Linked DNA regions of Homo sapiens. The protein of the gene in region 2 interacts with the protein of the main gene of each other region in a pairwise test. Each region holds a gene or a part of one and is shown on either strand. Other genes may lie near its edges. The genes, in order: AICDA, PRKAR1A, AKAP5 and RFC2.

The links.
Region 1: the proteins of PRKAR1A (region 2) and AICDA interact in binary tests that used the Homo sapiens proteins (3 or more experiments, as listed by UniProt).
Region 3: the proteins of PRKAR1A (region 2) and AKAP5 interact in binary tests that used the Homo sapiens proteins (3 or more experiments, as listed by UniProt).
Region 4: the proteins of PRKAR1A (region 2) and RFC2 interact in binary tests that used the Homo sapiens proteins (3 or more experiments, as listed by UniProt).

Annotation. Positions count from the first base shown.
Region 1 is NC_000012.12:8,609,837-8,617,058, reverse strand, and holds the start of AICDA (single-stranded DNA cytosine deaminase), read left to right. Parts: upstream 1-4,199; 5' UTR 4,200-4,291; coding exon 4,292-4,299; intron 4,300-7,222. UniProt on the Homo sapiens protein: Single-stranded DNA-specific cytidine deaminase. Involved in somatic hypermutation (SHM), gene conversion, and class-switch recombination (CSR) in B-lymphocytes by deaminating C to U during transcription of Ig-variable (V) and Ig-switch (S) region DNA.
Region 2 is NC_000017.11:68,508,579-68,515,456, forward strand, and holds the start of PRKAR1A (cAMP-dependent protein kinase type I-alpha regulatory subunit), read left to right. Parts: upstream 1-3,851; 5' UTR 3,852-3,970; exon of another isoform or gene 3,971-4,400; intron 4,401-6,408; exon of another isoform or gene 6,409-6,541; intron 6,542-6,815; 5' UTR 6,816-6,821; coding exon 6,822-6,878. UniProt on the Homo sapiens protein: Regulatory subunit of the cAMP-dependent protein kinases involved in cAMP signaling in cells.
Region 3 is NC_000014.9:64,468,468-64,475,003, reverse strand, and holds the end of AKAP5 (A-kinase anchor protein 5), read right to left. Parts: coding exon 5,326-6,536; 3' UTR 501-5,325; downstream 1-500. UniProt on the Homo sapiens protein: Multivalent scaffold protein that anchors the cAMP-dependent protein kinase/PKA to cytoskeletal and/or organelle-associated proteins, targeting the signal carried by cAMP to specific intracellular effectors.
Region 4 is NC_000007.14:74,231,002-74,237,430, forward strand, and holds the end of RFC2 (replication factor C subunit 2), read right to left. Parts: coding exon 6,361-6,429; exon of another isoform or gene 6,355-6,360; intron 4,645-6,354; coding exon 4,531-4,644; intron 1,216-4,530; coding exon 1,105-1,215; 3' UTR 501-1,104; downstream 1-500.

The DNA.
Region 1 (7,222 bases), on a different chromosome or scaffold from region 2:
AAAAAAAAACTAAAACTAGAACTACTATATGATCCTCAAAAATTTTAATACAGAACTACCATATTGAGCAATCCTGCTTCTGGGTAAATACCCAAAGAAAACAAAATCAGTGCCTTGAAGAGATAACTCCATGTCCACTGCTGCGCTATTCACAATAGCCAAGATATGGAGACAACCTACGTGTCTGTCGACAGATGAATGGATCAAGAAAATGTGGCACGTATATATATATCAGAATAAGAATATCATTCTGCCTTAAGAAAGGAGATCTTGCCATTTGCAACAACATTGATAAATCTGGAGGACATTATGCTTGGTGAAATAAGCCAGACACAGAAAGAAAAATACTGCATAATCTCACTTATATGTGGAATCTTAAAAAGTTGAACACATAGAAGCAGAAAGTAAAATGGTGAGCCAGCCACAGTGGCTCACGCCTGTAATCTCAGCACTTTGGGAGGCCGAGGTGGGTGGATCACTTGAGGCCAGGAGTTCGAGACCAGCCTGGCCAACATGGTGAAACCCCCGTCTCTACTAAAAATACAAAAATCAGCTGGGCGTGGTGGTGCATGCTTGGAATTCCAGCTAATTGGGAGGCTGAGGCAGGAGAATCCTTTGAACCCAGGAGGCGGAGGTTGCAGTGAGCCGAGATCACACCATTGCACTCCAGCCTGGGCAACAGAGTGAGACTCCGTCTCAAAAAAAAAAAAAAAATAAAATAAGAAAGAAAGAAAGTAAAATGGTGGTTAGCAGGCATGGGGAGGTAGGGAAAATGGGAAGATGTTGCTCAAATGGTACAAAGTTGCAGTTATACAGGATTAATAAGTCTAGAGCTCTATTGTACAGCATGATGACTACAGTTAAAAAAGATTGTATTGGGCCAGGCACAGTGGCTCACACCTGTAATCACAGCACTTTGGCTGAGATGGGAGCATTGTTTGAGCCCAGGAGTTCAAGACCTAACTGAGCAACATAGTGAGATCCTGCCTGTACAAAAAAACAAACAAAAAAATTAGCCCAGTGTGGTAGTGTGCAGCTGTGGTCCCAGCTACTCGGGAGGCTGAGGTGGGAGGATTGTTTGAGCCCGGGAGGTCAACGCTGCAGTGAGCCAAGATCATGCCACTGCACACCAGCCTAGGCAACAGAGTGAGACTCTTGTCTCGAAAAAAAAAAAAAATTGTATACTGGAAATTTTCTAAGACAGTAGATTTCAGATGCGGTCACCACACACACATATCCATACAAGGTTACTATGTGAGGAGATGGATAAGTTAATTAGCTTGACTGTAGTAATCATTTCATTACAGATAACAAAACACCATGTTATGCACCTTAAATATGTGCCGTTTTTATTTAAAACAATAAAACAACCCAATTGTGTGTACCTGTGTGTTATTCTCTTGACAAATGGGTGAAAATATGATAAAAGCCCAACTCGCATCTGAGGATACAACTTAAAGGGATTAGATTTCAAATGCCTGCACCTTCCAGTTGACGCTGCAGATGAATTAGGAGTCTCCATTCTGCTCCTTGACCAACTGTCCTATAAAACTGAGAGTGCCAAAGGCAACTACCGTCTACTATCTTGCTGGTGCCCTGAGGAATTTTTTCAGCAATAATAATTTAGACAAGGCCAGGTGCAGTGGCTCACGCCTGTAATCCCAGCACTTTGGAAGGCTGATATGGGCAGATCACTTGACCCCAGGAGTTCGACACCAGCCTGGTCAACATGGAAAGGCCTCGTCTCTAAAGAAAAATACAAAAATGAGCTGGGTGTGGTGGCACATTCCTGTAGTCTCAGCTCCTCGGGAGGCTGAGGCAGGAGTGTCACTTGAGCCCAGGAGGTCAAGGCCTGCAGTGAGCCATGTTCATGTCACTGTAGTGCAGCCTGGGTGACAGAGAGAGACCCTCCTCAAAATAATAATTATTATTATTACATAATTATTAGAAATAATTATAATTATTATTTTGAATCTCATGGCTAATTAAAAAATAATTTAAACAGATTATTTTACTTGTCTTTAGTTTACTTAGGAGTGTATTTTAAGTGATAAGTGCTAAAGAGAAAAATAATTTAGGGGATGGAGGCAAGGGAGTGTCAGAATGGTGAGATTTTGTTGACATTTTAGATATGGTGACTAGGACAAATCTCAAATACCGGACAGTATTTGAATAAGGACATAAAATATATGATGGTGTAAGCCACAACCATACACAAAAAATAACATTTCAGCAGAGGGACCTCAAGGGCAGAGGAAGGAGTGTGCGCTCTTTGCGTGAGCAAGGGAGAGAGTGGAAGGAGATGCAGCCAGAGGGGTGAAGCAGAGCAGACGGTAGAGGGGCTTGTGGGCCATCTCAGGCTGCTGGCCTATACTGAGAGAATGGGAAGCCATGGAGGGTTATGACAGGGGAGTGACATGACCTTAAATATTCCAGAAGGAATACTCTAGTTGCCATGTGGAGAACAGACTGTAATCGAAGAAGGGGGAGGCAGGAAGGCCAGTTGGGAAGCAAAATGCAATAATCCAGGTTGCTTGGACCTGGAGGTAGTGAGAAGTGGTCAGTTTGTGGCTATATTCTGGAAGCAGAGATAACAGGATTTGCTAATGGAGTGTGCATGGAATTTAAAAGAAAGAGAGGAGCTGAGAGACACTCTGCCCAGGTTTTGCCAAGCAATTGGAAGAATACTGCTGTTTATTGAGATGGGAAAGACGGCAAGAAGAGTAGGTAAGGCAGAGAACAGGGGTTCTGTTTTAGACAGGCTGGAGGTGCTCAGACATCCAAATGGAGATTCTGAGAGGGAAGCTGGATACACTTGTCTTGAGTTTCAAGAAGTGGTCTGATAGATTTGCCTGTGTCCCCACCCAAATCTCATCTTGAATTGTAGTTCCCACAATTCCCACATGTCATGGGAGGGACCCAGTGGGAGGTAGTTGAACAATGGGGGTGGGTCTTTCCCATGCTGTTCTCATGATAGTGAATAAGTCTCACAAGATCTGATGGTTTTATAAAGGGATTTCCCCCTGCGTGAGCTCTCTCTTGCCTACCACCATGTAAGATGTCCCTTGCTCTTCTGCCATGATTGTGAGGCCTCCCCAGCCATGTGGAACTGTGAGTCAACTAAACCTCTTTCCTTTATAAATTACCCAGTCTCAGGCATGTCTTTATTAGCAGTGTGAGAACAGACGAATACATGGTCCAAGCTAGGGCTATTGATTTGAAAATCATCAAGGTATAGATGGTATCAAAGGCTTGAGGCAGGAAGAGAGCAGAGACCCTAGCTGCATTGCTTAGCATTGCATCCCTAGCACCTGGCATAGTTTCCATTAACAGTAGGCATGAAGTATCTACTCAGTGAATAAATAGAATGCATATGGGCTACAGTAGGAGAGAGAAATAAAATCTTTAATAGACCAAGTTCTATGAGAGCACAAAATTAAAGTCTTTTATTTGAAGATCTTAGCCTGTTTTCCAAATTCAGTGCAGCCAGTTAGACACTGAATCTGTCTGGTGAAACAAGCATTTTTGTATTTTGGGGGACTGCTGCTGCTTCTGACTCCAAATTAAGGATTTTTTTTTTTTCTAAAAAAGATGGCTCATGCAAAAATCACTCTTTGGTGTAAATATCTAGTCTTCAAGCAATTCTTGTAATGCAATCAGAAAGAAAAAAATCCATGGTTTGGGAGGCAAAATTTTTGTGTTCTAAATTCTATATAACTGAGTTCATTTGCTTAACTGCAAAGCAGGAGCTGCTAGTGCCTGTCTGTACTGAGGTTCAGAGAGACTGTGGGAATATGGGGGAATTAGAGGCTATCTGAGGCTCTTCAACACAATAACCCAAGAAGCTATTTAAATGCTCTTTAAGGTATTTACATAAATATTACTATTCTCATTGTGCTTTTATTTTGTGTTATCATGATTATAATTGAAGTGTCTACTGTTACTGCCTCCTGATCTTTGCTAGCTATGGAGCATGGACTGGGCTTTTAGAGCAGCAGCCCCAAAGGAACCTAAACATTAAAGCAGAGCTGCCCTCAATGGTTTAACCTGTGTGACTCTGCCTATGACAGCCCCACCCACCCATCTTCACTGGATCCAAATCAGGAGCAAGGCCGTTGGGGTACCTGGTGGGGGTGATGCTGTCAGGGGAGGAGCCCAAAAGGGCAAGCTCAAATTTGAATGTGAAGGGCCAATGCACTGTCAGACTAAGACAGAGAACCATCATTAATTGAAGTGAGATTTTTCTGGCCTGAGACTTGCAGGGAGGCAAGAAGACACTCTGGACACCACTATGGACAGGTAAAGAGGCAGTCTTCTCGTGGGTGATTGCACTGGCCTTCCTCTCAGAGCAAATCTGAGTAATGAGACTGGTAGCTATCCCTTTCTCTCATGTAACTGTCTGACTGATAAGATCAGCTTGATCAATATGCATATATATTTTTTGATCTGTCTCCTTTTCTTCTATTCAGATCTTATACGCTGTCAGCCCAATTCTTTCTGTTTCAGACTTCTCTTGATTTCCCTCTTTTTCATGTGGCAAAAGAAGTAGTGCGTACAATGTACTGATTCGTCCTGAGATTTGTACCATGGTTGAAACTAATTTATGGTAATAATATTAACATAGCAAATCTTTAGAGACTCAAATCATGAAAAGGTAATAGCAGTACTGTACTAAAAACGGTAGTGCTAATTTTCGTAATAATTTTGTAAATATTCAACAGTAAAACAACTTGAAGACACACTTTCCTAGGGAGGCGTTACTGAAATAATTTAGCTATAGTAAGAAAATTTGTAATTTTAGAAATGCCAAGCATTCTAAATTAATTGCTTGAAAGTCACTATGATTGTGTCCATTATAAGGAGACAAATTCATTCAAGCAAGTTATTTAATGTTAAAGGCCCAATTGTTAGGCAGTTAATGGCACTTTTACTATTAACTAATCTTTCCATTTGTTCAGACGTAGCTTAACTTACCTCTTAGGTGTGAATTTGGTTAAGGTCCTCATAATGTCTTTATGTGCAGTTTTTGATAGGTTATTGTCATAGAACTTATTCTATTCCTACATTTATGATTACTATGGATGTATGAGAATAACACCTAATCCTTATACTTTACCTCAATTTAACTCCTTTATAAAGAACTTACATTACAGAATAAAGATTTTTTAAAAATATATTTTTTTGTAGAGACAGGGTCTTAGCCCAGCCGAGGCTGGTCTCTAAGTCCTGGCCCAAGCGATCCTCCTGCCTGGGCCTCCTAAAGTGCTGGAATTATAGACATGAGCCATCACATCCAATATACAGAATAAAGATTTTTAATGGAGGATTTAATGTTCTTCAGAAAATTTTCTTGAGGTCAGACAATGTCAAATGTCTCCTCAGTTTACACTGAGATTTTGAAAACAAGTCTGAGCTATAGGTCCTTGTGAAGGGTCCATTGGAAATACTTGTTCAAAGTAAAATGGAAAGCAAAGGTAAAATCAGCAGTTGAAATTCAGAGAAAGACAGAAAAGGAGAAAAGATGAAATTCAACAGGACAGAAGGGAAATATATTATCATTAAGGAGGACAGTATCTGTAGAGCTCATTAGTGATGGCAAAATGACTTGGTCAGGATTATTTTTAACCCGCTTGTTTCTGGTTTGCACGGCTGGGGATGCAGCTAGGGTTCTGCCTCAGGGAGCACAGCTGTCCAGAGCAGCTGTCAGCCTGCAAGCCTGAAACACTCCCTCGGTAAAGTCCTTCCTACTCAGGACAGAAATGACGAGAACAGGGAGCTGGAAACAGGCCCCTAACCAGAGAAGGGAAGTAATGGATCAACAAAGTTAACTAGCAGGTCAGGATCACGCAATTCATTTCACTCTGACTGGTAACATGTGACAGAAACAGTGTAGGCTTATTGTATTTTCATGTAGAGTAGGACCCAAAAATCCACCCAAAGTCCTTTATCTATGCCACATCCTTCTTATCTATACTTCCAGGACACTTTTTCTTCCTTATGATAAGGCTCTCTCTCTCTCCACACACACACACACACACACACACACACACACACACACACACACAAACACACACCCCGCCAACCAAGGTGCATGTAAAAAGATGTAGATTCCTCTGCCTTTCTCATCTACACAGCCCAGGAGGGTAAGTTAATATAAGAGGGATTTATTGGTAAGAGATGATGCTTAATCTGTTTAACACTGGGCCTCAAAGAGAGAATTTCTTTTCTTCTGTACTTATTAAGCACCTATTATGTGTTGAGCTTATATATACAAAGGGTTATTATATGCTAATATAGTAATAGTAATGGTGGTTGGTACTATGGTAATTACCATAAAAATTATTATCCTTTTAAAATAAAGCTAATTATTATTGGATCTTTTTTAGTATTCATTTTATGTTTTTTATGTTTTTGATTTTTTAAAAGACAATCTCACCCTGTTACCCAGGCTGGAGTGCAGTGGTGCAATCATAGCTTTCTGCAGTCTTGAACTCCTGGGCTCAAGCAATCCTCCTGCCTTGGCCTCCCAAAGTGTTGGGATACAGTCATGAGCCACTGCATCTGGCCTAGGATCCATTTAGATTAAAATATGCATTTTAAATTTTAAAATAATATGGCTAATTTTTACCTTATGTAATGTGTATACTGGCAATAAATCTAGTTTGCTGCCTAAAGTTTAAAGTGCTTTCCAGTAAGCTTCATGTACGTGAGGGGAGACATTTAAAGTGAAACAGACAGCCAGGTGTGGTGGCTCACGCCTGTAATCCCAGCACTCTGGGAGGCTGAGGTGGGTGGATCGCTTGAGCCCTGGAGTTCAAGACCAGCCTGAGCAACATGGCAAAACGCTGTTTCTATAACAAAAATTAGCCGGGCATGGTGGCATGTGCCTGTGGTCCCAGCTACTAGGGGGCTGAGGCAGGAGAATCGTTGGAGCCCAGGAGGTCAAGGCTGCACTGAGCAGTGCTTGCGCCACTGCACTCCAGCCTGGGTGACAGGACCAGACCTTGCCTCAAAAAAATAAGAAGAAAAATTAAAAATAAATGGAAACAACTACAAAGAGCTGTTGTCCTAGATGAGCTACTTAGTTAGGCTGATATTTTGGTATTTAACTTTTAAAGTCAGGGTCTGTCACCTGCACTACATTATTAAAATATCAATTCTCAATGTATATCCACACAAAGACTGGTACGTGAATGTTCATAGTACCTTTATTCACAAAACC
Region 2 (6,878 bases):
TACCTGGGTGATGGGATCACTTGTACCCAAATCCTTAGCATCACACAATATACCCAGGTAACAAACCTGCACCTGTACCCCTGAATCTAAAATAAAAGTTGAATGAATAAGTAAATATGCTATTTTTGATGAAGATATGTTTTAGATTAAGATATTTTTACTTGGAACGCTTTAGTGTTAGATCCAAGTTTGCCACCCTTCTGGTTTCTTGGTTAATATTTTCAATTAATGCTCAAGATAAACACCCCTCCTTAGTTTAAATGAGCATTTGCCAGTGAGAAAAGTAGGAAGACATTTTGGCATTCGGGTGTTTGCTGGAATTAGTTATGTCTGAAACCACAACTTTGGGTCTCCTAGGAAGTATAAGTACTCAGTACCATTGTACACCATAAGTAGGTGGTGATGGACTTTGAAATTGGAAATACGTGGATCTGTGTTTAGCCAATGGAAACTTTAGGTGCAAGAACCACCAAGAAATGGACCACCAAAGTATTCCTTCCTTTCACGTTTTAGCTTTCTTAATTCTATTTCTGCTTATCACTCATGTTTATTTTGCTTTTATGGTTTTTGGTATTGTTTCACAAGCATTGTAACAGCAATTATGCAATTTCTTTTTCGTTTTTTGAGTGGGAAGGTCTTGCTGTGTGGCCAGGGCTGCAGTGCAGTGGTGCGATCATGGCTCACTGCAGCCTTGACCTCCTGGGCTAAAGCAATCCTCCCAGTACATGCGTGGGTCACCACATCTGGCTAATTTTTAAAATTTTTTTGTAGAGACGGCGGTCTCACTGTGTTGCCCAGGCTGGTCTTGAACTCCTGGGCCCAAGGAAGCCTCCAGCCTGGGCCTCCTAGAGTGATGGGATTACAGATGTTAGCCACCAGTTAAACAGGAAAATTTACTTATAATCCCACTACTCTAGAAACATATTTTTAAACTGAGTTTCTCAAGGACACAGTCCAAAGGAAAGGCTAACAGACCTTTGAATCAAGGGCAGAAGGCCTCTGGAGAAGGGAAACCATACAGAAACTACAGTGGAACAAATGTCATTTCTGAAACATAATTTACGAATACCAACAAGTTGGTATTCTCACAGTGGCACAGTGGCACTGAAAGAACATTTGCACCATTTGGAAAGCACTGAGGCTATTTAGTTTTTCAGAACAGCTGTCTCACTGAACTTTCCCCGGGCTCAACTGTCTACTGCCCATTTCCCTTTATGTCTCCTAAAGCCCCAGCATATGAGGATTTGGCACCTAGAACAAGGTTGAGTGTGACTGACACAGGAAATGGCCCGTGGCTGGACTGGCGCCTGCATGCAGCTGAATGGGGACACACAGCCAGGACTCAGCAAGGAAGCAGCTGTCACTCAAAGTGCTCAGCTCAATGTCAGCAGCTTGCTTGTTTCCTTATTCTTAGTGTCTTAACTGCACTTGGAAGGTAACACTAATGGTGGGACATAGTGTCACTCTGACTTAACCTTGTAGTTTGGGTAGCTCTGCAGGAAGAGGGAGAAATGGGAAGTAAATTAACATTCATTTAATATATCCCCCACTGTACTGAACACCATATATATATATGTAGACAGAGAGAGAGAGAGAGAGAGAGAGAGAGAGAGAGAGATCTATCTATTCTGCAATGGAGAGTGATTAAGATCACTGCCTGGGTTTAAGCCATGTTAGCTGTGTGGCCATGGGCAAGTCACTTAACTTCTCCATGTCTCATGTTTTTTTCTGTAACAATAACAATATTACCTATGTTAAGAGTTACTATGAGGATTAAATTAATTATGTGTAAAGCCCTTAGATCAGTGCTTGGAACACAGTAAGTGCTATACGTGTGTTTGCTGTTATACCCTTAGTAGTTAACTTCAACAAAGTCCTGTTCATCCTTTTATGACCGAGGAAACGGACACCCATGGAGATTAAGTCAATTACCGGACATGGCAGAGCCTGAAACCAAACTCAGATTTACCTGACTGCAATATTTTCTTCCCATAACATGACCGGGCCTGCTCAATGCTATCAAATTCCCTCTGCTGCTTGCCAGCGTAGGGTTCAGTTTATCAACCCTTCTTTGTACTGTCAAGAGTGAAATCCTATCTGACTGAGGCTCTTTTATCCCCATTTCTGATCAACCCTGGAGAAGGGCCAATGGTCAACATTTGGGGAGTCAGTGAAAGGAGAAACTTCCCTTTTCCATTCCCCCCTGTAAGCCTGATTGCCCTTTTGATATCGCCTATGTATCCCTATCAGAAGGCAGTGAATAACATAACTAAATAAATCATCTGATGGACAGTACCCTTAGAGCCTGGTGGATTTGGGGGAGCAGTCGGCCTCCGAGGGCAGCGCTGCCCAATAGGAATATAATGGGAGCCATCTGTGTAACTTTAAACTTTTTAATAGCTACACTAAGAATTAAAAAACAAAAGTGAAATTAACTTTAATATTTTACCTAATATATCAAAAATATTATCATTTCAATCTGGAATCAATATAAACACTATTGAGCTACTTTTTTGTATTGTGTTGAGTTCATGATTTACTTTAAACATACAGCCCTTGAAGTATATACAATGTTACTACAACAGCTCCTGGACACTTGCATATGTGTGTATTTTGCTTTTTTGTATTGTGTTGAATCCATTATGAATTTTAAGCACACGGCCCTAGAAATATATACAATGCTACTAAAGCAGCCCCTAGCCAGACACTTGGACATGTTTCCTTGATGGGCCTTCTTTATTGAGTTACAGACTTGATGTGTCTAAAATTGTACCGTCTCCCTTTTCTTCCTCCTTAGACAGATACTCTGATGGAAAAAAAAAATGGCTGAAAGAGTAAAGTCGCTTTTCCTCCGAATTTTCCCCATTAGTGCAGCTTGTCTGGACAGCTGCGATTTCTTGTTGGGTCACAGGGCATTTTTGACAATCTGCACGCTCTGCACTTCTCCCTCTGTGAGGTCAGGAGTGATGGGGGGGCACTTCAGGTTCTAGAAGGACTCAGGCCTCCTCTTGGACCCTGACAAAGTCCTTTCCCGTGCCTGGTTTCCACAGGGACGGTGTTGCCTGCACAGACGACAGCACCCCCGGCGGGGGAGAGCGGCCCCAGCGGAGACTCGGCAGGGCTCAGGTTTCCTGGACCGGATGACTGACCTGAGCCCGGGGCCCGGGCGGCGCTGGCCGGGCACAGGATGCGCGGCCCGGAGAGCGCATCCCGGCCATCCGCCCGCGCTCGGCCCCGCAGCGCAGCTGCTGCAGATCCGCGGGGGCCGCCACCTCCTCCGGGGGCTGGCAGCGACAGGACTCTCCCCGCCCCGGCCCGGGGCCCTCCCTTGCAGGGGCTGCGGGGAGGAGTCGCCCACCTGTCATCTGAGACGCCCCACGTGGGTCGGCCAGGGAGGGGGTGGAAAGGAGGGAGAAAAGGCAGAGGCGTCAAGGGAGGCCGGAGGGAGAGTGGGGTGGACAGAGGAGCGGAGGGACGAGAGGGAAGCGCACGATAGCTGCGCGGAGAGAGAGCGAAGAGCAGGCGGAGGAACAAAGGCGACCCAAGACACCCAGAGAGGGACAGGTAAGGAGGGGCAGGTGAGCAGGAAGGAGGAGAGAACCGGGCTAGGGAGACTGCGGAAAGGAGAAGTGGCGGGCGTGAGGAAACTGCTGTGGATAAGGGACGAGTAAGATGGAAAGAATGGCGGAAGACGAACGACCGCAGAGTGAGGGTCCTTCCAAGAGCGACCAGGGGGGAGGAACTGGGGCTGTTGCGCCCTTAAGGTTGCTAAGGCGACGGTTCTGGCCAGAGCGAGGCGCATTGACGTCAGTAGCCGAACGCTGATTGGCTGCGGCCAGGCCGTTTCCGGTGGAGCTGTCGCCTAGCCGCTATCGCAGAGTGGAGCGGGGCTGGGAGCAAAGCGCTGAGGGAGCTCGGTACGCCGCCGCCTCGCACCCGCAGCCTCGCGCCCGCCGCCGCCCGTCCCCAGGTGAGTGGGGTCGGCCGGGGGCTCAGGCGAGGTGAGCTTCGTCGCTTCGCAGCCGGTTTGCGGGAGCTGGACCGATCCAAGATGGCGTCACGGGGAGCGACCTGCAGGGGGACGGCCGCACCCCCTGCCCCTCCCCGGCCCGGCGGGCGCCTCCCCGCAGGCCTCACGCCCCCGGCTCCGAGTCTGCATCCTCAAGGCCGTCTGGGCGTTGGCTTTGGTGCGGGGCTCCCCAGCCGCCCCGCTCGCGCTCGCTGCCCCCACCCCACGGCTCCTGGGGCCCTGGGCCCTCCGCGGCCCTCCCCGGCCGCCTTCGCCCCCGCGCGCCGCGGCCTCTTCGCTCACCCTCCCCCATTTCCTGAAGGACAACGGCTCTATTTTACTGGGGTCCGCCATCGTCTCGTCCGCCGGTCCTGGCTCTTCTTGTAAGCCGGTAGTTTTCCTCTCCACTTTTGACGACTCGTCATTGCTAGCAGTAGCCTTTCCTCTTCATAGCGGAGTGATCTTTCCCCCAACACGACGGTCTTAGTCGGGCTCCTGAATTTCCTCTTGTCCCCTTTCACCTCTCTCCCTTTCCCAATTTTGCCCCCCTGAGGCCTCCTCGCCACCACTGTGGCCTTCCGACTGGCGTAGCTTGAAGTCTCGGCTTCCCTTCATTTTGTGGTCATGACCGTGGCCTACGTGAAGTGAAGGGCATTTTCCTGCCCTTCTTCTAGAAAATACACGGTACCTATTAACCTCTTCAGCTCAGAGCCTGTGGTGACGACCGTCCTACTCCTTGAGAGATTCCCAAGAGATCCGTCTTTTTAGCAGAGCGAGGAAAGCAAACACTTACTCAAGATGACCCTAGGGGAGCCGTAACTTGGCTGGTCTAAGGGGGTGCGGTCTGAATCAGGAACAGTTTCTCAAAGTGTTTTTATTTATTTCCCAGAATGTAATCCTTTCGAAACAATTTTGTCACAACTGAATTTTCAAAAGAATGAATCTGAGTGTTTTGTTTTACATAGAGACAATGCAGCGAAAGTTTTAAAGCAGTTAAATAATTGTGTGTGGGGAGGGAAGGCTAGGTTGTTGGGCTTTACAAATAAGTACACATAGAGAATCCGGGTAACTCGATTAAAAATATTAAGACTGTGAAGTCTGGTTATTCAGGGATTTACATGGTGACTGCATTAATTTTGGTACATTTCTGTTCGTATACTGTCCTATTACCGGTGGCTATCTTTTTGGTTTTCGTAATACATTAGTTGTTTCAAACAAAAACACAGTTTCACTCCTTAGGCCCAGTTCTCTCATCTCTACCAGCCAAAGACCTGATCTTAGAATGATTGATCATTTGAATGTTCTTAAAATATGACAATGCTTTGAAGCATGAAAGATCTGATTTATGATTGTTCTTGGTGGCCTTTAAGTATTATTTGAAATGCAGACAATTCTACTGAAGTGGATCTTCAGTTCATATGATTGCCTGACCTGGAGAAGTGGCTTGTATAAATCTATCCTAAAGTAAATGCGCGTTTTTGTTTTTGTTTTGCCTGTTTAAAGTAGCAGCATGATTATTTTTCCATGGCTTCTAATTTATGTGCTTGTCTTGGAGCCACGAACTTTCTAATGGTCTGTTAATTAGTCTACTTGTTGTTGACCTTTATGGTGAAAGTTGTCAAAACAAAATGAGTAACAGTGTAGCACTTTAGAATAGCTCTTTACTCTGTTAATTCTTTCTATAAGTTCTTTTAAATTTACAGTTTCATCTCAATAGTTTACAATGCATTATAATTGGAAAAGTCTGATTAGTATTGAATTCAGTTGCTGAGTGGAGGGGACCACACTCTTGTCTTCTACTCTTAAGTGCTTAGTAATTAGGAGTTGGAAGGAAAACAGTATATGACCCTGTTGTTAAATTAGTAAACTTTTAATTCTAGGGTAAGGTTAGCTGCTCATCATTATCTCTGTTTGCTTTACTTTACATAAAGGTACCATAATTCGAATCCTCTAAAATCCATTAAATGCAATTTATCCATTAAATGTAATCCATTAAATGCAATTTATCTATTGAATCTTCATGCAAGTTTGAAACTTAAGTGTTTTAACATTCTCCTGTCAAGATGAAGAAAATATTTTGACAATTTTCTGTCCAAATGTTTTACAGTTTATGTGGTAAGAATTCTCCCCTCCCCCAACTAAGGATTTTCCTTCTTTTACCACTAGTGTATTATCATTTAGGGGTGGAATCTGGCAAACGAGTCTGGAATAAAGGTTGCTTTTAAAACTCATCTAATTTTCTTGTGTGTTTTTAAAAATTTTGATTATGCTAGTAGTTGGCTAATCAGATCCTCACTCCAGTGGTTTGCTCTGTGACGTTAGGATACTCCCATGGGATAGAAGTTACGTATAGGGAATGTCAGATATTCTTCATTGTGCTGACTTGCTTTCGCTTACAGTTGACTTTTGTGCCCTGGTAATTCTGTATCCTGTTTACCGTTTACCTACTTCCCACGTCATCATGATTTCTTTTGAGGGAGAACTGAATGAAATTCCCTTAAGGGCCTGACTTCAGCACCCGTCTCTGCAGAGGTTAGTGGCTCATACTTCCTCCCAGGAGCTGAGGTTATCGACTCTCACTGTTGCCTACAGAGCACAGATCCTGAACTAAATGAAACATTTACTTGGAATAATGCTAATTCTGTACATATTTTATTCCCTAGTCCCCACTTCCCTGTTTAAAAACAAAATCTACTTAGAAAAAAATCCCTGTGAATCAGTTGTCTAATGAATTTAGCAAGTTAAATGCCAGATTGACATTTTGCTTTATAGTTTATACAAGCATGTGTGTGTTTTTTTCTCGCAGAGAACCATGGAGTCTGGCAGTACCGCCGCCAGTGAGGAGGCACGCAGCCTTCGAGAATGTGAG
Region 3 (6,536 bases), on a different chromosome or scaffold from region 2:
AGTCCTTCCTAGAGCCTGATTGTTATCATCGGGCTGTGGTTACGAAAAGATAGAGTGTTAACATTACCAAAATGAAATCAGTGTCTTAGTAAACACAGAACTTTTTAAACACCCACCTTTAGTATGTACCGTCTGAATAATTCTAGCATTTTCACATTGATTAGTCTTTTGAAAAATCATAAAGATGAACAATTCATAGGTTAATGCAGAAAATAATGAGTATATCAAGAGATGAAAACAGTGTGCTTTTGTCAAATTCACAAATGTCATCAAATTCAGAACTGCCCTTTTGGCTGAATTAGTTCAGCATTGTAGGTGTTTATATTTGTCTTGCTGAAGGACTGTTTTAGGAGTGTTGTTGTAAAATCTCTGTCCAATTCCCAATTAGCAGAGTAGAACTTTTGGTAGTGCGAACTCAGTAGTTCCATCAATGTGATCTTTACAGTTATAGGAAATGAACATAGTTTGCCCACAGTTCTTTTAAAAGATCTGAATAAACATGAGTCAATATAACATTTATTCTGTATTAATAATCAGTACATAAATTAATTCAACTTGAAACCTTTTTTCTACAGAGTACTATTTAATATTATCATCTGATCCATAGTAATTTAGTACTAATTTTAATGAGAAAAAATGAAACTTTTACTTTCATAATAGCTCATCCACTTAACATTTTTACAAAGAACTACTATAAATATGTAACACTATGCAGGCTTTTTTCTACACCTAGTCACAAATCAAAATAAGCATACTGTTTATTTAAAAACGGAACACTTTCAAACTGCTGCTGTATTCAGATCACCACCTTCCCCACACCAAATTAATTGCTCTCTCTGTGTACTCCCCTCTGTGCCACTCATGTTGCAGCATTATCCATGGCTCTTTGCCTTAACCCAACCCGGTTTCTGTTGTCACTGCTCCCTAGGTTGAGTTCTTGGATGGCAGGGAGCCTGTCTCCCTTATCAAATAGTGTTAGGTATGAGTTATGCCTAATACGTGTGTTGAATCAAATTGAATTTAATTAGGACACCTGAATTTTATGTAGCTTCCTTCTAATTTTTGTAACTAAGGAGCATTACAAATTTTCTTTTCAAAATGTACCATAAAATATACCATGGATTGAAATTTTGAATTATGTATAAGAGAGTTCATGTTACCCAATAAAACATCATAGGAATTTGAACCTAAAGAACTCTAAATCTTAAATGAGGATTTTTTTTTAAATGCACAAATGGCAGGCAGAAAAATCAAATCCTGCTATATTATCAGATGAAATTAGAAAGTAGACTACATATTTCAATAAAGTTGACATTAAAAGGATCTTTTCAAACAGTGGGATTCTAAAGCCTAACAATTATTTTTTAAATTCTGTTGTAAACCTCGAAAAACATTCTTAACTATAAAAAATAAGGTAACTTGAAGTTAGAAATTTATGGATGAAGTTAGAAATGTATGGATGAAGTTAATGCTGGATTGCATACAGAAGCCAAATTTGGTGCCTCCATGATCCATATCTTTAATGCCTTTAGCAAGCCTGTTCACATATACTGGTGAAATAACAATCTCTCAGAAGTAAATAAAAGAGATTCTAAGACTCCGCTGAGTAGTAGACCAAGTAAGATCATCACAAACTTCATGCTGTCAAATACATTACCTTGAAGGAAAATTATGCAGACAGCTTTTCTGAACAACTCCATTTATGCCACATGCTTATTATTCTTTGAGGTGGAGGAGGTGGCAGGGAACATAATTTCTGTTTGAAAGTTCTTTTGTTTTCTGCTACCTTTACTTAAATGTTACCGGGTACTATTTTTATATCCTATAAAGTGCTTTGAAAAAATGTTAAGTGAATAGTGCTACATAAAATAGAGGAGAATTTTCACATTCTCTGGGTTGTAAGAAGCAAAGTGAATAATACTTGAGTCTTAAAAGAGGAATGATAATATGCTGAAAAAGTTAACAAGTAGCTAATAATCCCCCTCCCCAACCCCCAGCTTTGCAAAATTCTGGGTTCAAAGAGAAACTGAATTTTGGCTAATAAATAAATAAACATTCATTAAAAGCAGAATTTATACCACAGCAAATGTAAAGAAAATTCATGTGGTGTTCCTAATAATTATTTTAATGTTGTTAAATGGACATGAATTGAAACAGAACTTATTTATATTCACTTAACGTTTGCATATAAGGTCAAATTGCTTAAATACTATTACAAGAAAAATATTTTATGACTCTGAAGCCATCTGATTTCTGCATATTTCTATAACAATAAAACAATTTGAATCACCTTAGAATTCACTGTAATAGGATTTGGCCATGTAGCACATATAATCAGATTGAGACCAGTTAATTTCGGAATTCCTTTTTCTAACTGAAATCCTACTTAATTCAACAGATATTCTCAATAGAAAAACAGAAACCTCTTAAGAATGAATGCAAGTAAAATATACATCTTATCATAAAAACAATCAGTACATTCTAACCAAAAATATATATCAAACCACAGTGAAAAAAGTAAAAACCTAGTATTAGATAAAATTTTACTTTCTTAACCAAAAAATTCATTGCACATATTTACCATTTATCTGTTTTTTTAAAAATCCCCCAAAATATTTCCAATAACTGCTAAGTACTATACTTTTTGCTTGTTCATGAGATTACTAAACATTTACAATGCAAGTGTATTGGCTTGGAGGCATCCTTGCAGTAAATGAGGGCAGGATTCTTCAATACACTGTAAAATGCACCAACCTTAGTCAGGTTTTTAAAATGGTTCACTTTTAAATATGATAGCTGGTAGCTGTCCAAGTCCATTAGCACCACATATAGTGAGTTAAAGAGTGTTTTCAGAGAAGATGACTCGTCTTTTTTGTTTTTAATGTTTAAAAGTTGTACAATTAAAAGAAATTGACTTCTTGGGTCATGTGTTTTGAATGACACTTTTCATCTTGCTCAGGATTTCCACCCTCCTCCCCGGATTATAAGCATGAAGGTAGGAAAATCTGGGGGAAATATTTTTGCACTTCAGCAAAGAATCTTGCTAATAATATCCATGATTTGGTTCAATTTCCAAGTCAGATTAGTTTCTTTTGTTAGAGGTCTCAATATGTATTTACAGAAAGAAATGAAGATGATTCTGTAGGACAAAGTAGCAAATACTTTCTATATGCAATCCATACACAATGCAAGAATTCACCCAGATCATTTAAAATCATCTAATGTGCATTATTTCCTCCAAGTGGAGCTCTTGAACAAATACCTTACATCTCATACTTCATCTTTATTACTTCATCTGTTTCAAGTAGTAACACAATCACTCAATTTACACAATGGGGGAATACACACTTTGAATCCTAACCTGTGAGGTAGGGAAGTGCACTCTGGTATTATGGCCATTTCACACAAGGAAAGATTGAAATAGGATTACTTTTTCAAAAAATATGGCAATCATTGATGAGATCAGATGCTTCCCTTTCAATATGTAAATAAAAATGCAAATAAGCCCTTCTCATTTTTGTAAAGTATATCTGGATTGAAAATAGTGATGAAGGCCGGGTGCGGTGGCTCATGCCTGTAATCCCAGCACTTTAGGAGGCCGAGGCGGGAGGATCATGAGGTCAGGAGATCAAGACCATCCTGGCTAACACGGTGAAACCCCATCTCTACTAAAAATACAAAAAATTAGCCGAGCGTTGTAGTGGGCGCCTGTAGTCCCAGCTACTTGGGAGGCTGAGGCAGAAGAATGGTGTGAACCCAGGAGGTGGAGCTTGCAGTGAGCCAAGATCGCGCCACTGCACTCCAGCCTGGGCGACAGAGTGAGACTCCATCTCAAAAAAAAAAAAAAAAGAAAAGAAAATAGTGATGAAAAAGTTAACTTTCAATATTCATGTAAAATGCTTTTTACTGGTCTCAACACACAGACATGAAGGAATACTGACATTTAAATTATAATGTGCTTTAGCAATAACTTTTCACTTTTCTATTCACCCACATTCATGGCTCATTTTTGGCCGAGAATAAATATTTGCACTAGATTATTAGGATTTTCCAGGACCATTACTACCAGGCTGGCTTTGAATCTACTCTCCCCTCTTTGGAGAGAAGTTGATGAATATGGCTCTTAAAGAAGTAATTCTGCAAGATGAATCCTATATTATCTGTGATAATTTACTTGGGAATTTTCCCTTCTCCTGGATGAAGAATAATATTCCCCTTGTTTTGTTTTTGCTGTTTCATTTTTTAACTTTTCACAGATAAATCCATGCAGAAATGGATATATACAGATCTGTTGAGGCAGAAAGAAAAGCGGGGGAAAAACCCACTCTCCCTGTTTCTACACTTTTGCACTTAGTAACAATTTGCCTGATTGAAGGATTTGTGAATGGTTCTCTTTTTTTTTTTTTTTTTTTTTGAGAAGGAGTCTCGCTCTGTTGCCCAGACTGGAGTGCAGTGGTGCAATCTTGGCTCCCTGCAACCTCCACCTCTCGGGTTCAAGCAATTCTCCTGCCTCAGCCTCCCAAGTAGCTGGGATTACAGGCGTGCACCACCACGCCCAGCTAATTTTTGTATTTTCAGTAGAGATGGGGTTTCACCACATTGGCCAGGCTGGTCTCGAACTCCTGACCTTAGCTGATCCACCCGCCTTGGCCTCCCAAAGTGCTGGGATTATAGGCGTGAGCCACTGCCCCTGGCCAAATAGCGCTTATAAGAGACTTAAGACTAGGAAACCACTCACGTTTAATATCAATATGCATATTCTGCACACTATCTGCTGAAATTGGGAAAATGCAATGTATTTTTTGAGTTAAGCCTGCTGCTTAGGAATGTAACAATTACAAATCACATTCACAAAAGTAGCTCACCTTATTCACCATTTTAAACATATATGTGCACTGTAAAAAATAAGTTTTTAAAAACTTAATGTGATGTTAGCCTATACACAGAGCTGAATTATCAAAAGGAAACCAGACTTTGTTATATCAGAGGTCATTAAAAAGCTTATGGCATACCATAAGTGCTCAATAAATACACCTTCCTCCCCCAAAGCACTCCAATCTCCATATGCCATTTTAGCAACTCCCTGTATGTTATGTCATTTTACACTGCAATCTGTGCTGACTTCCTCCAATCCAGAAGTGACTGCATTTCAGTGGTAGAGTTTTATAAACTTGACTTAATCTTTAGCACTTCTGCGCTGGAATTGTACCTTTTAAGTTCTAGAGATGATAAATCTCTCATTTGTTACTGAGTAAGAAATGCCACAAATGTATAAAAGAATTCTTCATTAAGCTTGTTTTTTCTGCCGTGACTCTGGAGAGTAAGTCACTGTAGAAGATTGTTTATTTTATTATCATCAGAGGCCATTTCATTAACCAGCTGTTCTATTGACAACTGAATAGCATTCTTGACTAGAGAAGAGGCTGTTTCAATTAAGAGTGTTTCATATTGTTCTGAAGTTCTATCCTCAAAACCATTATCATTAGCAAAAACCCCTACTTGCTCATTTTCAGCTGAAATTAAGAATTGCTTAGGGACATTTTTAGATTTTGTAACATCAAATTCACTGATTTCAGTGTCTGTAATAATAATAGCAATTGGCTCCATTCTTTTGCTTTCTTCTGATTTGGATTTCTCTTCAGTGATCCCATTTTCTTTAAAATCTGATTCTTGGCTCAATTCAGTATCTTTTGGCTTAGTTTCTTCAGCTACAATCTCTGTACTTTCATAGTCTTTTCCATTTGGTGCACTTTCTAGGGTACTGTTACTGGCTTCTTCCACAATTTGTTGATCTGGAATTGCAGGTAAAGGAGGAACATCAGAAAGTACTGGCTGCTGATGGTCTGTTTCTGAAGTTTCAAGTGGGCTTGCTTGCTGGGGTTGAACATCTTGTTTTTCCTTGATCGTTTCAATTTCTTCAAGGATTAGAGTTCCCGTTTGAATAGCAGAATGCCCATTATCTAATCCAAGTTCTACTGAAATCACTTTCTCTCCAGAAGTTGTGCTATTGCTCACATTTGATTCACAGACCTCATCACCATCTTTCCGTGAGATGCCTTCACTTAGATCCTGGGTTGACTTAGCCTTTGTTGCCTGATCATTCAATGGGGTCTGTGTTTGTATATCCAAAATTTCAGCTTCTTCCTGGACTTTGATGCTGCAGTCTGAGTCTTCTATAATTTTGGAATGATTACTCCTTTTTGGCCCTCTTGGGAATTTTATGCAGGGAATCTTAAGTCTAGATTTTGCCTTTTTCTTAGAAAGATCAGCATCCTCAGCATTTATTGCAGGTTGCATTTCACCCTCCAATGGCTTTTGCTGCTTTGAAGACTCTGACCTTTTCCTGCGTGTTACAAGACGTTTGAGTGAGGCCCAGGCCCCCCGTGTGGGCTCTGGCTGATCAGAAGCTCCTGCTTCTTGTGGACACTTCCTTGCCACATCAGCAGCTTCAGAGCCAGCTTTGGGCTTCAGTGCTTTGGCTGCTTTCTTTCTTCTCTTGAAGCAAAGCATGGATGCCTTTTCCTTCTGCCTTTCAG
Region 4 (6,429 bases), on a different chromosome or scaffold from region 2:
AGGATCACTTGAGCCCAAGAGGTTGAGGCTGCAGTGAGCCAAGATTGGCCCACTACACTCTAGCCTGGGCGACAGAGTGAGACCCAATCTCAAAAATCAAAACAAAACAAAAAGGGAAAAAAATAGTATCTTACCAAAAAAAAAAAAAAGGCAATTCTACAAATTAGTACGAAATTCTTTGGGGAATTCTAAAGCAAGCGCAAAGAGTATGGTCTAGAACACAGGAAGAGCATCACGGTGTTTTCCTGAGGGCTGGGCTGCATCTCTCCACTCTGCCGCCCTCTCTGAAAGGCTCGCCACCTGGCCATTCTGAGAAATCAGTCTAAATAGGAAAGACAGCAAACCCTGCCCTCGCCCTGGGGAAGTGGCGCCTTCAGGCTTCTAGAAGAACCGAGATGAGCTTGTGGGTCTACTATCTAATCGCCTTTTCTACTTGTAGGCTGCCAAGGCCCGTAGAGACAGGAAGCTGGTTTTTCTCGAGGCTTCACATGGTCACCTTATTGCCAACAAACACTGCAAGGCTTTATTAGCTAAAATGTCAACCCACACACAGATCAGAGACCGCCCTCAGCTTCTCTGCGCCTTTCCGCCCCGTCACCGCATCAATGGGGTGGAGGCCAAACTCAAACACTTGCGGGGCACAGACGTCCCAGAAGCAAACATGCAAGTCACGGGAGTTTATTTATTTAATTTTTTTCCCCAGATGGAGACTCTGTCGCCCAGGCTGGAGTGCAATGGTGTGATCTTGGCTCACTGCAACCTCCACCTCCTGGGTTCAAGCGATTCTCCTGCCACAGCCTCCCGAGTAGCTGGGATTACAGGTGCCCGCCACCACACCCAGCTAATTTTTATATTTTTAGTAAAGACAGGGTTTCCCCATGTTGGCCAGGCTGGTCTTGAACTTCTGACCTCAGGTGATCCACCTGCCTCGGCCTCCCAAAGTGTTGGGATTACAGGCGTGAGCTACCGTGCCTGGCCAGCCACTGGAGTTTAAAGGACAGTCATGTTGGCTCCAGCCTAAGGCGGCATTTTCCCCCATCAGAAAGCCGCGGCTCCTGTACCTCAGAATAGGGCACCTGTAAGTCAGTCAGTGAAGTCTCTGCTCTAACTGGCCACCGGGGCCATTGTCTTCTGACACAGCCTTGCCAGGAGGCCTGCCATCTGCAAAAGAGAGTTCACTCCTTCCGCTATTTTCATGTGAGTGTATCCAATTTCCTGAAAAACAAACCAAATTCAAATCTGGTTAATAAGTGGGGGAGTTCTTTTTTAAAATCTGAACTGAAAAAAATAAAAATAAAAACAGAAACAAACTGAACTAATGGTTTTTTCAAAATCAGCATGAGGAATTCCAACCCCAGCCGGAAAATGAATGCTAAGATGCAATGGATTATGTTTACCTAAAGTTCTATTTATTTCTTAAAAGGATGCTGATAGTTCTTTCAAAGAAACTGTTAAGAAAATGGGTGGGGCGAGGGGGGGCGGGGTGGTGGCACGGAAAGCCAGGCTAGAGGAAAATATTTATATATCTGATAAAGAACTTGCATCCAGACTGTATAAAGAATTCTCAAAAATTCAGTAATAAAGTCCAGGCGTGGTGGCTCATGCCTGTAATCCCAGTACTTTGGGAGGTCAAGGCAGGTGGATCACGAGCCCAGGAGTTCGAGATCAGCCTGACCAACATGGTAAAACCCCATCTCTACTAAAAATACAAAAATTAGCCAGGTATGGTGGCGCACGCCTGTAATCCCAGCTACTCGGGAGGCTGAGGCAGGAGAATCACTTAAACCTGGGAGGCGAAGGTTGCAGTGAGCTGAGATAGTGCCACTGCACTCCAGCCTGGGCAACAGAGCAAGACTCCATCTCAAAAATAAATAAGTAAATAAATTCAGTAATAAAAATCAAACAACCCAATTAAAAAATGGGTAGATTTAGACCTGGAGCAGTAGCTCACACCTGTAATCCCAGCATTCTGGGAGGCTGAGGCAGGAGGATCACTTGCCCAGAGTTGGGCCTGGGCAACATAGCAACACCCAAACTCTACGAAAAAAAGAAAATAAAAATGACCCAAGTGTAGTGGCACATGCCTGCAGTCCCAGCTACTCGGGAGCCTGAGGTGGGAGGATTGCTTGAGCATGGAAGGTTGAGGCTGCAGTGAACTATGATCGCACCACTGCACTCCAGCCTGGGTGACAGAGCAAGACCCTGTCTCTCAAAAACATAAAAAAGGTAGGCCAGGCGCAGTGGCTCACACCTGTAATTCTAGCACTTTGGGAGGCCGAGGCGGGAGGATCACTTGAGCCCGGGAGTTCAAGACCAGCCTTGGCAACACGGGGACACCCCGTCTCCACCAAAAATATAAAAATTGGCCGGTCTTAACATGATCTCTAAACAAAAAATACAGTACAATTAAAATAAAAAATGTAAAAATTTTAAAAAATGGGTATATATGAACAGATGTTTCATCAAAGAAGATTCTGGATGGCAAACGAGCACATGATTAAATGTTCAGCATAGTAATTAGGGAAATGCAAATTAAAGGCACAATGAGATCTCATCACATGCCTATTAGGTTATTTTGTTGTTGTTGTTATTGGTTTTTTTTTTTTTTTTTTTTTTAAGATGGAGTCTCACTCTTGTCGCCCAAGCTGTAGTGCAGGGGTGTGATCTCAGCTCACTGCAACCTCCACCTCCTGGGTTCAAGCGATCCTCCTCCCTCAGCCGCCCGAGTAGCTGGGATTACAGGTGTAAGCCACTGCATCCGGTCATTACACACCTATTAGAATGGCTTAAAAACCAAACTGAGCACTCCATGTGGTGGCTAGGTTGAGGATCCTCCGGAATGCTGGTGGGAATGCACGTGCTGCAGCCACTTCGGAAAACCGTTTGGCAGTTCCTTATCGAGTAAAACATACACTTATCATTTTCCCAGGCAATTTCACCCCTGGGAACTTACTTGGGAAAAAGAAAAACTTAACATTTGCATTCACACTAATCCATATATGCAAATGTTTACACTGGCTTTATTCACAGTCACCACAATCTGTAAACCCAAATGTCCTCCAGCTGATGGACAGATAAGCAAACTGTGGTACACGCACAGGATGGATTACTTCTCAGTGATAACACGGACTGACTCATGGATAGAAGTACCAGCGTGGACACATCTGAAAGGCATTTCTGCTACAGTGAAAGAAAGAAGCCAAACTCACAAGGCTAAGTTCTACATGATCCCATTTATATGATATTCTGGAAAACTGTATCCCATGAAACAGAAACTACATCGGTAGTTTCCAAGTGGTAGTCGGGGAGGGGGCTGGCTTCAAAGGGACACATGAGTTGTTCTGGGATGACAGATTCTGCATCCTGATGGTGATAGTGTTTGCATGACTGAGTGCGTTTGTCCTGTACCTAACAGGCTGAATTTTACTCTATGTAAATTAAACCTCAATTAATCTAACCTTGAAAAATCAATCAATCAGTCAATACACAAGAGAGCCTTGAATGAAGAAAATCAGAACTGTGTGAAACAAACTTGGTCCTCAGGACAATCAGCCACGTTGATCTAGTTTGGACGTCTGTCCCCTTCCAATCTCATTTGGAATTTGGTCCCCAATGTGGGGATGTTTGGGTCATGAGGAAGATCCCACGTGAATGGCTTGGTGCCCACCCCAAGGTAGTGAGTGAGTTCTGGATCAATTAGGTCCCTGGAGAGCTGGCTGTTCAAATGAGCCTGGCACCTCCCTCCGTTCTCAACAGGTGGTCTCTGCATGCACAGGCTCCCACTTCCCCTTCCAACATGAGCAGAAGCAGCCTGAACCCCTCCCTAGAAGCAGATGCTGGCATCATGCTACATGTACAGCCTGCAGAACTGTGAGCCAAATCAACCTCTTTTCTTTCTACATTACCCAGTCTCTGGTATTCCTTTATAGTAACTCAAAGGAACTAAGACACAGCCTCCCTCCCACTGCAGTTGGGAAACACTGAGCACCTTCTAGATGCCAGGCCTGTGAGCAGAGAAAGCGAAGCCAGGGCCCACAGTCTTTTTTTTTTGTTTTGAGACAGTCTCGCTCTGCTGCCCAGGCTGGAGTGCAGTGGTGCGATCTTGGCTCACTGCAACCTCCACCTCCCAGGTTCAAGCGATCCTCCTCCCTCAGCCTCCCAAGTAGCTGGGATTATAGGCGCTTGCCACCACACCCAGCTAAGTTTTGTATTTTTAGTAGAGATGGGGCTTTGCCATGTTGGCCAGGCTGGTCTCAAACTCCTGACCTCAGGTGATCCGCCCACCTCGGCCTCCCAAAGTGCTGGGATTACAGGCATGAGCCACCACGCCCAGCCATGCCCAGCTAATTTTTGTATTTTTAGTAGACAGAGGCTTTCACTACGTTGGCCAGGCTGGTCTCGAACTCCTGACCTCAGGTGATCTGCCCACCTCGGCCTCCCAAAGTGCTGGGATTACAGGTGTGGCCCACAGCACCCGGCCACTATGGGCCACATTCTTGAGGACAGAGGCATTTCTACATTCTCACCGACCTTGATAAACTCCAGTTTCAGGTATTCTGCCATTTGGAAAGTTTTACACACTCGAAAGATGTTGCCAATGATATCTTCTGGTGAGTAGCCCAGATGCCACAAGTGAGCAAGAATCTAGACAAAGGAGACAGAAAAGGCTGCTTACCACTTTAAACTGTAAGAAGACATGTGATTTTGAGACTCACCACAGCTGGTGGGGCCCACCCTTCAGGTCACATGGGGGTACCTTAACTGATTTTCATGGCAGATAGAGAGATAACATTGCAAATGTATTGTTGTTTTGCTTAAATATTTTTTTTTCAGTAATATAAAGATAAGAGTCTTGCTATATTGCCCAGGCTGGTCCCAAGTTCCCGGCCTCAAGCAATCCTCCTGCCTCGACCTCCAAAAGTGCTGGGATTACAGGCATGAGCCACTGAGCCCAGCCTATCGCAAATGTGTTAAGCTGTGTTGCAAAATGGTCTACTACCACACCCATGTAATCTCTTGATCCGGAGCTCTTAAAATGCTTTATTAATCTGATGACTAGGTATAGCAAAGTGGAAAAAGCAGACCATTCATCTGCTAGCTTCATCCAGCTGCAGTCCCAATGCAACCTCTGCAGGACGAGCCTGGAGCACACCCTGACTGGGTAATCCCAGCCTCCTGCTTCCCACCCACCCTGCCCCACCCAGGCTGCAGCGTCTGGAGGCAGGCCTTTTTGCCTTTGTTTTGGCATCTTGGGGTGAATTCAGGAGGCAGAGAAGCTCTGTGCCCACAAATCTGAAGGCTTTCTTCAGGTCTACTCAGGGACCCTGGGCCTGGGTCTCTGCTCAGTCTCCCCGCCTTGCACTCCGGTTTCACATTGGGTGGAACTATGCCCTAAACCCAGTCAACTTCCAACCTAGTTTGTTAGGGGGTAGGCAGAGGGAAACCATGACTGGATCAATGACCTTGAACCACACCAACCACACCACACCCATGTGGCTTGAGGTCGCCTGAACCCCAGCCACATCTGCTGGAATCTGCTCACAGCACTCAGTCCCATTGTGAGGCTAGAATCTTCCTGCTCCCTCCTCTCCTGGCTAGCTGGGGGCTGCTGGATCCCAGAATGCCTGTGCCTATGAGAATGGATGGGGACACTTCCCCTTAACTGGAGAGAAGATGGCTTCCCTGGAGAAGGAGCTAGGCTGGTCTTTCCTCCTGACTTTGGCTGACAAATTTCTCCTGCAGAGGATATAATTACAGGAGAAAAACACCATTTTGAATTCTAGTTCTACTGCTTTTAAACCATGACTTAGGGCTGGGCATAGTGACATGTGCCTGTAGTCCCAGCTACTTGGGAGGCTGAGGTGGGAGGATCGCCTGAGCCTGAGAGGTAGAGGCTACAGTGAGCTGTGACCGCGCCAGTGCATTCCGGCCTGGGCAACAGAGTAAGACCCTGTTTCTACATAAATAAATAAATAAATAAATAAACAAACACAGTGATTTAGGACAAGGAATTCAGCCTCTGAATCAGTTTTCTCATCAGTAAAGTGCACCCAACTCCTAGCATAATTTTTTTTTTCCAGTTCCTAGACAGATTAACACATAGCATGATATTAATAATTTTTTTTTTTTCCTGAGACAGGGTCTCACCATCACCCAGGCTGGGGTACAGTGGCGCAATCACAGCTCACTGCAGCCTTGACCTCCAAGGCTCAACAAATCCTCCTGCCTCAGTCTCCCAAGTAAGATTTCAAGAATGAATGGAGTGATGTGTATAATGTCCCTGGTACCAGAAGGGCTCCCGCTCTCCTCTGCCCAAGAAGTGAGCGGTTCCTCTGCCAGGACGGGGGGAAGGAGGCCAACCTTGTAGGCTTCGTCAATGTTGGCATTCACACAGTGCTGGATCATCTCCTTTACCAGCAGTGGGTGGGG